Linked DNA regions of Homo sapiens: region 2 is linked to region 1. Evidence: fine-mapped expression QTL. Tissue or cell type: whole blood. Region 1 holds a variant in brackets; the other region holds the start of a gene. All regions are shown on one strand. Distances are between the middles of the regions.

Region 1 (5,493 bases):
GTCTCGGCTCAGTGCAACCTCCGCCTCCTGGGTTCAAGTGATTGTCCTGTATTTTTAGTAGAGACGGGGTTTCACCATGTTTTCCAGGCTGGTCTCGAACTCCTGACCTCAGGTGATCCGCCCGCCTAGGCCTCCCAAAGTGCTGGGATTACAGGCGTAAGCCATCGCATCCGGCCCTTCTTTTTTCTTTTTAAGCATTAAAAATGTGCATACTCGGGCATGCGCAGTTTCTGTGGGAAAACATGTTCCTTAACTAAAAGGCAGCACATTTGCAACAAATAATTTTTCCCTCAAACAAGGACACTTGGGATAGGAAGAAGGGCAGAGCTGAGGACAGGTCTGATCCTGTTCAACTTTACTAAGAACCTGTTTTCTGCACTTCTACTTCCACAGCTCAGACAAGAACAGAACCTCTTCTGCTTGGGGGTGGGGCAGGGCTGTCTTGTGCGGAATGGCCTCATTCCTGGATTAGGAAGTGTTCCTAAGTAGTGAGGTGTCTCAGATGTTTATAAAGTGACCACTTGTGTAGTGCTCAGGGCATTGTTGCTTCTGTAAAGTGCGTATCATTTGATCTCATGCTGTAAATGATTCTGTCTTCAGGGCGCAAACCAGAAGAAGAGGGTGTGGAAGATAACGGGCTGGAGGAAAACTCTGGGGATGGACAGGTATGTGCAGCCTTGCGAGTGAGTAGCGTGGTGGATGGACCAGTGGCGGTCACATGATGGTTCGGTCTGGTTGTGTCACAGGAGGATGTTGAGACCAGTCTGGAGAACTTGCAGGACATCGACATCATGGATATCAGTGTGTTGGATGAAGCAGAAATTGATAATGGAAGCGTTGCAGATTGTGTCGAAGACGATGATGCTGATAACCTCCAGGAGTCCCTGTCGGATAGTAGAGAGCTAGTCGAGGGGGAAATGAAAGAGCTTCCGGAGCAGCTTCAGGAACATGCTGTAGGTAACCGGCAATGTCTCTAGAATGTGCCCTGAATGTATCAGTTCCACAATTAAAATAGGTGATCAGTTTCATATTGGGAAGTAAGTTGTTCTGTAATGCCAGTTCAGTAGAATAAGGGTCAGTTGGTTCAGATGATTCTGAACCAATTTGTTTTGTTGAAAGGTGATGTCTTATAACATTTCATATGTACTTGCTATCCATTTGCGGCATACAGTATGAGACATTTTGAGGACAACCATTCAGACTCTTCCTGTTGCCGGACTTGATCTGTGGTGTTATGGCCTAGGTACCTTGAAAGCATTGAACTAGGAAGAGGTTAGAAGTTGGTGTTTTCCTGTTAAGAAGCAATTGTTGAGCTGGGTGCCTTGATGCACTCATGTAATCCGGTAACTCAGAAAGCTGAGGTGGAAGGAGCAGCCCAGGAGTTCAAGGCTGTACTAAGCTATGATTGTGCAATTGAAGTCCAGCCTGGGTGGCAGAGTCTGACAGAACCCTATCTCTTGTTTAAAACAAACAAACAAAAAAAAAAACACAGCCAGTTGATACCTATCTTAAGAGTTAACCTCAAGTATTAACCTGGATGTTGTTTTTAAACCTAAATTTTTTTCCTGTTAGAAACATATCAAATGGATAGTAAGATTATAGTGGGTAGTATTTCCTGAATACTACCTACCAGGCATTGGCATTATGCCCTTCCTTTCTTTTTTTTTTTTTTTTTTTTTTTTTTCTGAGACAGAGTTTTGCTGTTGTTGCCCAGGCTGGAGTGCAGTGGCGCGATCTCAGCTCACTGCAACCTCTGCCCCCTGGGTTCAAGTGATCTCCTCCCTCAGCCTCCCAAGTGAGTAGCTGGGATTATAGGCGCCCACCACCAAGCCCGACTAATTTTCTTGTATCTTTAGTAGAGACGGTTTTCACCATGTTGGCCAGGCTGGTTTTGAACTCTTGACCTCAGGTGATCCGCCTGCCTCAGACTCCCAAAGTGCTGAGATTACAGGTGTGAGCCACCGCGCCCAGCATGTGCCCTTTAATTCTTCTAATAGCAACATGAGGTGCTGTTGTCCCCATTTTCAGTTGAGGAAATTGGGAAGGCAAGAACTAAAAAACATCTCCAGATGACACACAGCTCATAACAGAATAAGAACTAAGATCAGGCTAATTCCAGAGGCCATGTACTTAACTTATGTACGATGTTGTCTTGGTGCCATTAATTTGATATTAATTTCATTTACCTGATGATTAATGTTTGTCAGACAGAAAAAGTGATGCATATGAGAAGCTGTGGGGCCCTTTCTGTGTTGGCTCGTGGGGGGCCCTGTTCTTGTCCTGGTCCTTAGGTCTTCCGCAGTGAGTGCTTCTCAAGCAGTCTTGGTGGACAGAAACCTTGTTGTATGCCAGTCAATCCGCTTCTGCATTTCTTCAGAATATTTTTGCATTTCCTCTTGGAACTGATTCCAAGTATCCTTAGAGGTAGCAGATTGTCATATTTGAATGGAGGATTTGAGTCTGAGAAGTGGCTGAGAGTTATTCTGATACAAATAGGGTGTGCAATTTTTGGTGAGTCCCATTCATCAGCTTCTAAAAAGGAGTAGCAGAAACACTTGCACAGCAGCAGGAGTTACTTACCCTTCCTGAATGGCTGCATCTTCTTAAGGCTGTTTTTTTCCCTCCTAAGCAGAAAATCATACATT[C/T]TGCAACAAAAGCTGGAAACATCCTAAATGCCTGGAAGCAGTTTAGTTTTAAGGGTTGAGGCCAGGTGCGGTGGCTTGGCTGGGCACAGTGGCTCACACCTGTAATCCCAGCTACTCAGGAGGCTGAGGCAGGAGAATCACTTGGACCAGGGAGGTGGAGGTTGCAGTGAGCCAGGATTGTGCCACTGCACTCCAGCCTGGGCGGCAGAGTGAGACTCTCAAAAAAAAAAAAAAAGAGTTCAGAGGTAGATTCTGGAGATGGATCAATTTCTGTGTGTCCCTGGACAAACTCCTTAACCTCTGCTCCTCACTTGCAAGAGGTTTTCGGAAGATTCAATGGATGGATGTTTATTATACACTTAAAGCAGAAGTCATCAAGTTGGCTGTCACCTGGGTTGTTTTTGTTTTGTTTTGTTTTTGTTTTGGGGTTTTTTTGTTTTTGCTTTGTTTTGCTTTTTTTCAAGACAGGGTCTCATGGTGTAAATGAAGTTTTCTGAGAGCACAACCACACCTATTGATACTGTTGTCTATGGCTGCTTTTGTGCTTTAGTGTCAGAGAGGAGTCCTGACTCATCTGTTCTACAATTCCTGAAGAATTTACTAGGCAGCTCCAACAAAGTGTTTCCCAGCCTAGTTCAATGCCTAGCATCTAGAAAGCACCGTAGAGTTATGAAATGTACCACCACGAATACAGTTTTTACTGCAGTGTAACCATCAAAATGAATTAAGCACATCTGTGTGAACTCAAACAATCTCCAAAAGAGAAGTGACACTTGGGGAGGGTTCAGAATGATGTGCTGCCCCTGGTGCAGATGTCTAAGGGGAGATGGTCTTTGGCACTTAAACACGTGTGTAGCATATGCGATGACCACTGCATGGCAGGAAGAAAGGAGTAGTGGAGAGTGGTTTTCAGTGAATGGGCTTTTGTACCTTTTGAGTCTTCTGATCGTGTGCGTGTCTTTCCTAGTGAAATATAGTGATAAAAATACATGCTGGTTATAAAATATCTGAAAACGTCTCCCCCTAAGTATATCTCAAATTTCAGGGCTTTAGAGCAGATGGCCAAAATTGGTTTCAGTCACAAATTATCTGAACCCCCTTTCTTTGTTTGGGGAATCCTTTGCCTTATTGGGCAGAGCCTACTTCTTAGAATAAAAGCTATTCTTCCCCTGCAAGTAGGGCATAGGATATTGCCAGTCTCGAGCTCCTGTCCTCACCCTCATGCTGGGAGATGCTGTTCCATTGAGGGAGGTACCTACCCCAGGGGCAGCAGGTCCCACATCCTCAGCATCCAGGCTGGGCGAGCAGCGGTGGCTGAAGGCTCCACTTCAGCAGGACTCTAGCCATTGCTCCTGGAAGAACAGCCCTCACCCTGTGCTCAGATCCACTTAGAGGCTGTGCACTCATTTTCATCTCTTTTCTGTTTGACTTAGACTTTTTTTCTTTCTTTTGCATCTTAAAACCTACATAGCTACCATATTAGTAGATTTCCTAGTCTATGTGCAGGTGGACATTTACATACAACTTTTTTTTCAGTTTAGCTGCAATTATACTATAATAGTGTTTTGATTTCTGCCCTGGGTTTAAAATTTTGTTGTGAATTATTTTCATAGCTGTTCACTTTTCATTGTACAGATGTACCATTATGTTACGTTATTGTTGGTGTGATGAACTGTATTTTCTCCATTTATTTTACAGATAGAGGACAAAGAAACTATAAACAATTTAGATACTTCATCATCTGACTTCACTATATTACAGGTAAACTGTTGTATGTCTCAGTACTTTTAGAATGAAAGGTCAGACCACAATTTCTGGAATCCATTTCAGACACCATATGCCAGTTCCAGCTAATAATCACCACAAGGGTTGTTTCCTTTGTCAGGATCGTTAATGGGTGTTTGCTTTCTGCTTTCCTCCAAATATAATGTACGCATTGCCAGGGACTTAACTCTAGGCTTCGACGAGTGGCCTCCAAGCGCTGTGGCTTACCAGCAGTCATTAGAGTCATGTTTTGTGGCATTCTTAATTTCATTGCTTGTGGCAGGGGAAGGCAGCCTGTCTCATCTACCCTGGGTGGCATCCCCTGCAGAAAGATGATTTGATGAGACAGCAAGAGGGCATGGCTACCTGGGAAAGATGAGTAGGGCCCAGATGGGGATTGAGGGTTGACAGAGCCCTGTTGGGGAAGGTGGGGTCTCAGGGGTTCTGGTCTTGTCTTTGGGAAGTTTTTTTTGTTTTGTTTTGTTTTGTTTTTGTTTTGTTTTTTCTGAAATTGCCCAGATTTCATTTAATGACTGTATCATCCTACCTGTTTCATTGGCATCTCTGTAAATATTAAATCTTAGATGAGAACAGATGAGTTGAGAATTTCCAGGTATGATTTTTATATTTGTGGGTCTTGAGTTTCCTTTTTTTTTCCAGCCTACATAGATACAAATTGTTAGAACACACTTACCTAGGTAGCTGGCTAATTCTTAGGAGAACTTTTTGTGGAGAAATGAAGATCGAGCCAGCTTTTGCCCAGCCTTTTTATTTATTTATTTTTTTTCCCGTCTTCTTTTTAAATGTCATCTATGTTATTGTAATTAGAAATCCCCTTTTGGAAAAGATCTCCATTTGCTTCTGCCATGCAAGGGCAAGGGAGATACTGGAAAGCCAGAGCTCCAACCTTGAGGAGGGCACAAATCTCAAGAAAACGTGGTGAAACCCAGTTCGCTTTTAGAGCTGCCGTCTCTCCACCTGCAAATTGACACGGCCATTCCCGACTCAGAAAGGAGAGGAGGAGCCGGATCTTGTCACTTTCCCCTGGCTCTTTCTTGGTCACAGTCTCCCATGTTAAAATGGG
Region 2 (5,246 bases), 76 kb after region 1:
TAACAATTTCAGAAACATTTATTGGGTCCCAAAGAAGTTGCCTCCCAATTTCCCCTCTGCCAACAGCTGATAGCTGCATCCTTGGCATCTGCCTCCTGGCCTTGGCAGGATCCATTTTTATGATTTACAATGCATCATCAACCAGAAATACAATGAGAACCACCTGCCAGTCTCCCAAATACTATCTGCAGCCACTCATTTAACTCTCCTGGCTAGCTCCACGTGGGCCGTCTGAACTCTCTTAGAAGAATCATCTCTCTGCTCAGGCACCGGGAGCAAGGGGCATCTGTCGCTCTGCAGAACGGAGGGGACCAGGCCTGATGAACACCATCCTGGGCCCAGAAACCTGGGAGGGTAAAGAGAACTGCCAGGGGTGAAGTCAAGGATGGGAAAAAGGCCTCCGGGGCAGAGTCCTGAAATGTCAGAAGTACACCAAAGAGGAAACAGCATCACGTTATTGCTGAGGCAGGGCCTCATTCTGTTGCCCAGGCTGCAGTGCAGTGGTGACACCATGGCTCACTGCAGCCTTGATCTCCCAGTTTCAAGTGATCCTCCTGCCTCAGCCTTCCAAGTAGCTGGGAAGACAGGTGCATGCCACTGTGCCCGGCTTTTCTTTCTTTCTTTTTTTTTTTTTTTTTGTAGAGACAGGGTCTATGTTGACCATACTGGTTTCAAATTATGCTCCTGCCTCAGCCTCCCAAAGTGCTGGGATTAAACATGTGAGACACCGTGCCCAGCCCACATGGCCTCATTTAAATCCCACAACAACTCTAATAAGACACTAATATGTCCAGGTCACAGATGAGAAGAGGGAAGCCAAAGGAATAACTTGCTGAAGGTTATGGAGCTAGGATAGGACCCCACAAGGTCTTGCTCTGGGGGCCTGCATCAGTAACCAGTACTCAACATCAAGGAAAGGCCTTGGGGCCGGGCGCAGTGACTCGCACCTGCAATCCCAGCACTTTGGGAGGCTGAGGCGGGTGAATCACTTGAGGTCAGGAGTTCGAGACGAGCGTGGGCAACATGGTGAAACCCTGTCTCTTCTAAAAATAGAAAAATTAGCCAGCCACGGTGGCGGGCGCCTGTAATCCCAGCTACTCAGGGGGCTGAGGCAGGAGAATCACTTGAACCCGGGAGGCAGAGGTTGCAGTGAGCTGAAATCGCGCCACTGCACTTTAGCCTAGATGACAGAGTGCAACTTGGTCTCAAAAAAAAAAAAAAAAAAATCTTGGAGCAGCGTTGGAGAAGCTCCCTCTGTCCCCTCTCTACTGGCTGCTGCCCCTCTGAAATGGCCTTTCCCTTCCCAACAGATCCTTGAGATTTGTTTAGAAGAGTCTGGAGAGTGAGCGCAGAGGCTGACTCACTGCGTGACCTTGCTCTGCCAGTTAGGAGATAACCTTCCCATAGATGCCACTTTCCACATCAGTAGTTTTTTTTTTTAAGGGAAGGGGAGCTGGGGGAGAAGGCTTTTGGGGCCTTCCTACTGTAAAAGCTCAAGTTCCTTACACTCACTGCTTTCTCTCTATTACATCATCCTGCTCCCTCCCCACCCCCAAGGCTCTTAGTCTGAAATGATCTAATTTCTACCACCGGAATGACTTGTTCTCTACAGTATTCTCAGAACTTGCTACGTGGTAGGAGGTCAAGAACACACTGAATAACCCACCTCTTCCCACCCTCCTAAGCCTCCTGTCCCATCCATGCTCTACTATTTCTCGTAATTATTGCCTTCTAATACAATATCGTTACTAAACATCTTTATTGCCTGTCTCATCCTGCCAAAATGTAAGCTCCAAGGCAGATTTATTTTTTAAGAGACAGGGTCTCGCCATGTTGACCAGGCTGGACTCCAGGTTTCCAACAATCCTTCCACCTCAGCCGCCAGAGTAGCTGGGAGTACAGCGCGCGCCACCATGCCCAGCTTCAAAGGCAGAAATTTTTGTCTGTTTTGTTCACTGCCATATCCCCAGAACCTAGAACACTCTCTGGCAAATAATAAGCAATCAAGAAGTATTTGTCTAAGAAAGGAATGAATTCTGATCCCAGTGAGGCTCGTAACCAGACGGCAGAGCGCCTGGGGCGAGGAGGTATTACAAAACTCGTGCCAAGTAAGGAGAAAACTAACAGCGCCGTAACACTACTCAGGTCCCTCCCGGCCCCGGATTTCTATGACCGGCGTTCTAAAGTGGATAATCCTAGGCTCATCGGGTTCAACTCCTCTCATCTAACGGATCCTAAGAAATCCGAAAGGGAGAGGACTTTGGCTCAAGGTTCCCAAGCTAGTGGTGAGCAGACAAGGATTCGAACTGCACCCTTCGAGAAACTTCATGTCTGAAAAAGTTGCGAAACACAAGGGCGCTCAAGTGATCCCACGGTTCAGCCCGCTGCTTGCACAGGTGGGAAACCTGAGGCCGAGGCGGGGACTCCCATTACCTCGATAATCTTGATAAAGCGCGGGAACACCGGGTTGCGGGTGATGGCGATGAGCGGCAGGTGCGGAAACACATCGGGGATCGTCATGGGCGTGAGCGCCGTTATGACCGGGCCTTCCCCGGCGCCCGCGCTGCCCCCCGCGCCGCCGGCTCCTTCCTCCGCGCCGCCCTCGGAGGCGTCCTCGCCCCCCGAGAATGCGCCTCCGCCGCGGCTGCTCGCTTCCCAAAACCCCCGCCATTGGCCCCCAATTGCCGGGCCTCGGCCCCACAGTGCCCAAGGAGGAGAGGCGTCGCAGGTCCGCTGGCCTCGGAGCAACCACGCTCCTGCTGCAGTGGGAACCCGCCCCCCGGCGGCGGCCAGCATCGGCCGCCGCAGCACCCAGCACCGCGCCGCTCCCCACAGTCGCACGTAGCCAGTGCTCGCCGCCATAGCCCGGCCATACTGGCGGCTCACACAACTCGCGTCATTTCCGCTCGCCGCGAAACGCACGTGACGCCCGGCGCGTGCCTCGGTACCCGATGGGCGCGTGGCTCGAAACAGCCGCTTCAGGGAGCTGGGCCTACGCGGAGAAGAGGGGGCGGAGTTCGAGCATCGGATCGTCTCCGCCTCTTCCGGTCTCCCACTTTATGCGCTGAAGGCCTTTTCCGGTCACGTGGAAGGCTGTGAGCAGGCGCCAGCGCCCGTACAAAACACTGGTAGTGTTGCAAACGCAACGTTTAGGAACTCATGAGCAGCCTGTGCACATGCTTAGGCGCGCGGACAACATGCGCATGCTCAGACTCTAGACTGGCCACGGGTGGCCGGGTGCGCATACTCAGGCTCTGAGCGCACTTTGGGGTGCGCGGATTCGGGCTTCCCGGGATTCGTCTGCGCATGCTCAAGATTCAGGCGGAGCGCCGGGCTGCAGTGCGCGGAGGCCCGCTCCCGGGACTCATTGATGCGCATGCGCAGGGCTTCAGCCTGCACGTACTCGGATTGTGCAGCGACTCCCCGTGGCGGTTGAGGGGCAGTGGTGGCGGCGGAAGCCCAAGTCGATGCTGATGTTGATGCTGGTGGCGGCTGTGACCATGTGGCTCCGACCGCTGGTCACAGCTCAGCTCTGTCGGTGGGGCTGCCAGGACTCCTGGGGCTGGGGTGCTGCCGGGGGTCGGGAGGGTGCTGGTTCATCTTGGAGCCGAGGCCTGCTCCCCAACCTCACTGAGGCTCCCCTTTTACTCTTTTTAGGAATCGAACTTGACGCCTCGCTCACCCTACTCCACCCCATCCTCCCAGCCCGATATTAAGCTCTCCTACCTCTTTTTTTTTTTTTTTTTGAGACGGAGTCTCGCTCTGTCGCCCAGGCTGCAGTGCAGTGGCGCGATCTCGGCTCACTGCAAGCTCCGCCTCCCGGATTCACGCCATTCTCCTGCCTCAGCCTCCTGAGTAGCTGGGACTACAGGCGCCTGCCACCACGCCCGGCTAATTTTTTTTTGTATTTTTAGTAAAGACGGGGGTTTCACCGTATTAGCCAGGATGGTCCCGATCTCCTGACCTCGTGACCCGCCTGCCTCGGCCTCCCAAAGTGCTGGGATTACAGGCGTGAGCCACCACGCCGGGCCTAGCCCTCCCACTTCTTTTTCTTTTTGGAGCCGGAGTTTTTGCTCTGTTTCCCAGGGTGGAGTGCAGTGGCGCGATCTCTGCTCACTGCAACCCCCGCCTCCCAAAGTGCTGGGATTGCAGGCGTGAGCCACCGCGCCCAGCCTTACCCAGCACATTTTGAAATTTCAGTAAATGTTAGGTTAGTGCATACTCCAACCTGCCATGGGGACCAGTTGCTGAAACTCCGTTCCTGCCCTCAGGGAACTCCCATCTGGACTAAACTGTCACATTCAGTAGGGACCTGTGAGCTGTATTCTTAGGGTGTATGGCCTCATTTGATGTTTACAGGAAGATTCATAATGATTCCTTAACCTTATTTTATTTTATTTATTATTATTTTTTGTACAGATGGGGTCTCACTGGCTGGGTGCAGTGGCTCACGCCTGTAATCCCAACACTTTGAGAGGTAGAGGTGGGCAGATCACTCACTTGAGGTCAAGAGTTCCAGACCAGCCTGGCCAACATGATGAAACCTCGTCTCTACTAAAAATACAAAAATTAGCCAGGCTTGGTGGCAGGTGCCTGTAATCCCAGCTACTTGGGAGGCTGAGGCAGAAAAATCGCTTGAATTCAGGAGGTGGAGGTTGCAGTGAGCTGAGATCGCACTCCAGCCTGGGTGACAAAGGGAGACTCTGTCTCAAAGGAAAAAAAAAAAAAAAGAGATGGGGTCTCACTGTTTTGCCCAGGCTGGTCTTGAACTCCTAGGCTCCAGTGATCCTCCTGCCTCAGCCTCCCAAAGTGTTGGGATTACAGGCATGAGCCACCCATGCCCAGCCATACCCTTATTTTATTTTTTTGAGATGGAGTCTTGTTCTCGTCGCCCAGGCTGGAGTACAATGTCACGGTCTCGGCTCACTGCAACCTCCGCCTCCCAAGTTCAAGCAATTCTCCTGCCTCAGCCTCCAGAGTAGTTGGGATTATGGGCGCCTGCCACCACGTGCAGCTAATTTTTTGTGTTTTTAGTAGAGACAGGGTTCCACCATGTTGCCCAGGTTGGTCTCGAACTCCTGACCTCGTGATTCACTTGCCTCGGCCTCCCAACGTGCTGGGCTTACAGGCGTGTGCCACCGCGCCCGGCCAACACCCTTATTTTATAGATACGAAAGCATACTTAGGAAAGTTAAAGACACACTTGCCTAACAACACATACCTAGTAAGTGGGAGAAACATTTTCC

The links. PIP is the estimated chance that this variant, and not a neighbour inherited with it, causes the effect.
Region 2: it holds the start of LONP1, and the variant in region 1 is fine-mapped to the expression of LONP1 in whole blood (INTERVAL, PIP 0.97).

The regions. Positions count from the first base shown.
Region 1 is chr19:5,640,994-5,646,486 of GRCh38, forward strand. It overlaps SAFB (scaffold attachment factor B), which reads left to right. Exons shown (of 21, transcript NM_001201338.2): 3 at 601-665; 4 at 747-953; 5 at 4,344-4,406. Among named protein-coding and RNA genes, the nearest start is that of SAFB, 21 kb to the left of the region's middle. The variant C/T (reference allele first, on the strand shown) is at 2,646.
Region 2 is chr19:5,717,271-5,722,516 of GRCh38, forward strand. LONP1 (lon peptidase 1, mitochondrial) reads right to left here and starts at 2,876. Exons shown (of 18, transcript NM_004793.4): 1 at 2,434-2,876. The coding sequence starts at 2,862. It overlaps CATSPERD (catsper channel auxiliary subunit delta), which reads left to right and starts at 3,367. Exons shown (of 22, transcript NM_152784.4): 1 at 3,367-3,538. The coding sequence starts at 3,468. RefSeq lists enhancers at 491-1,007, 1,008-1,523, 2,557-3,073, 3,026-3,125 and silencers at 2,486-2,565, 2,696-2,745.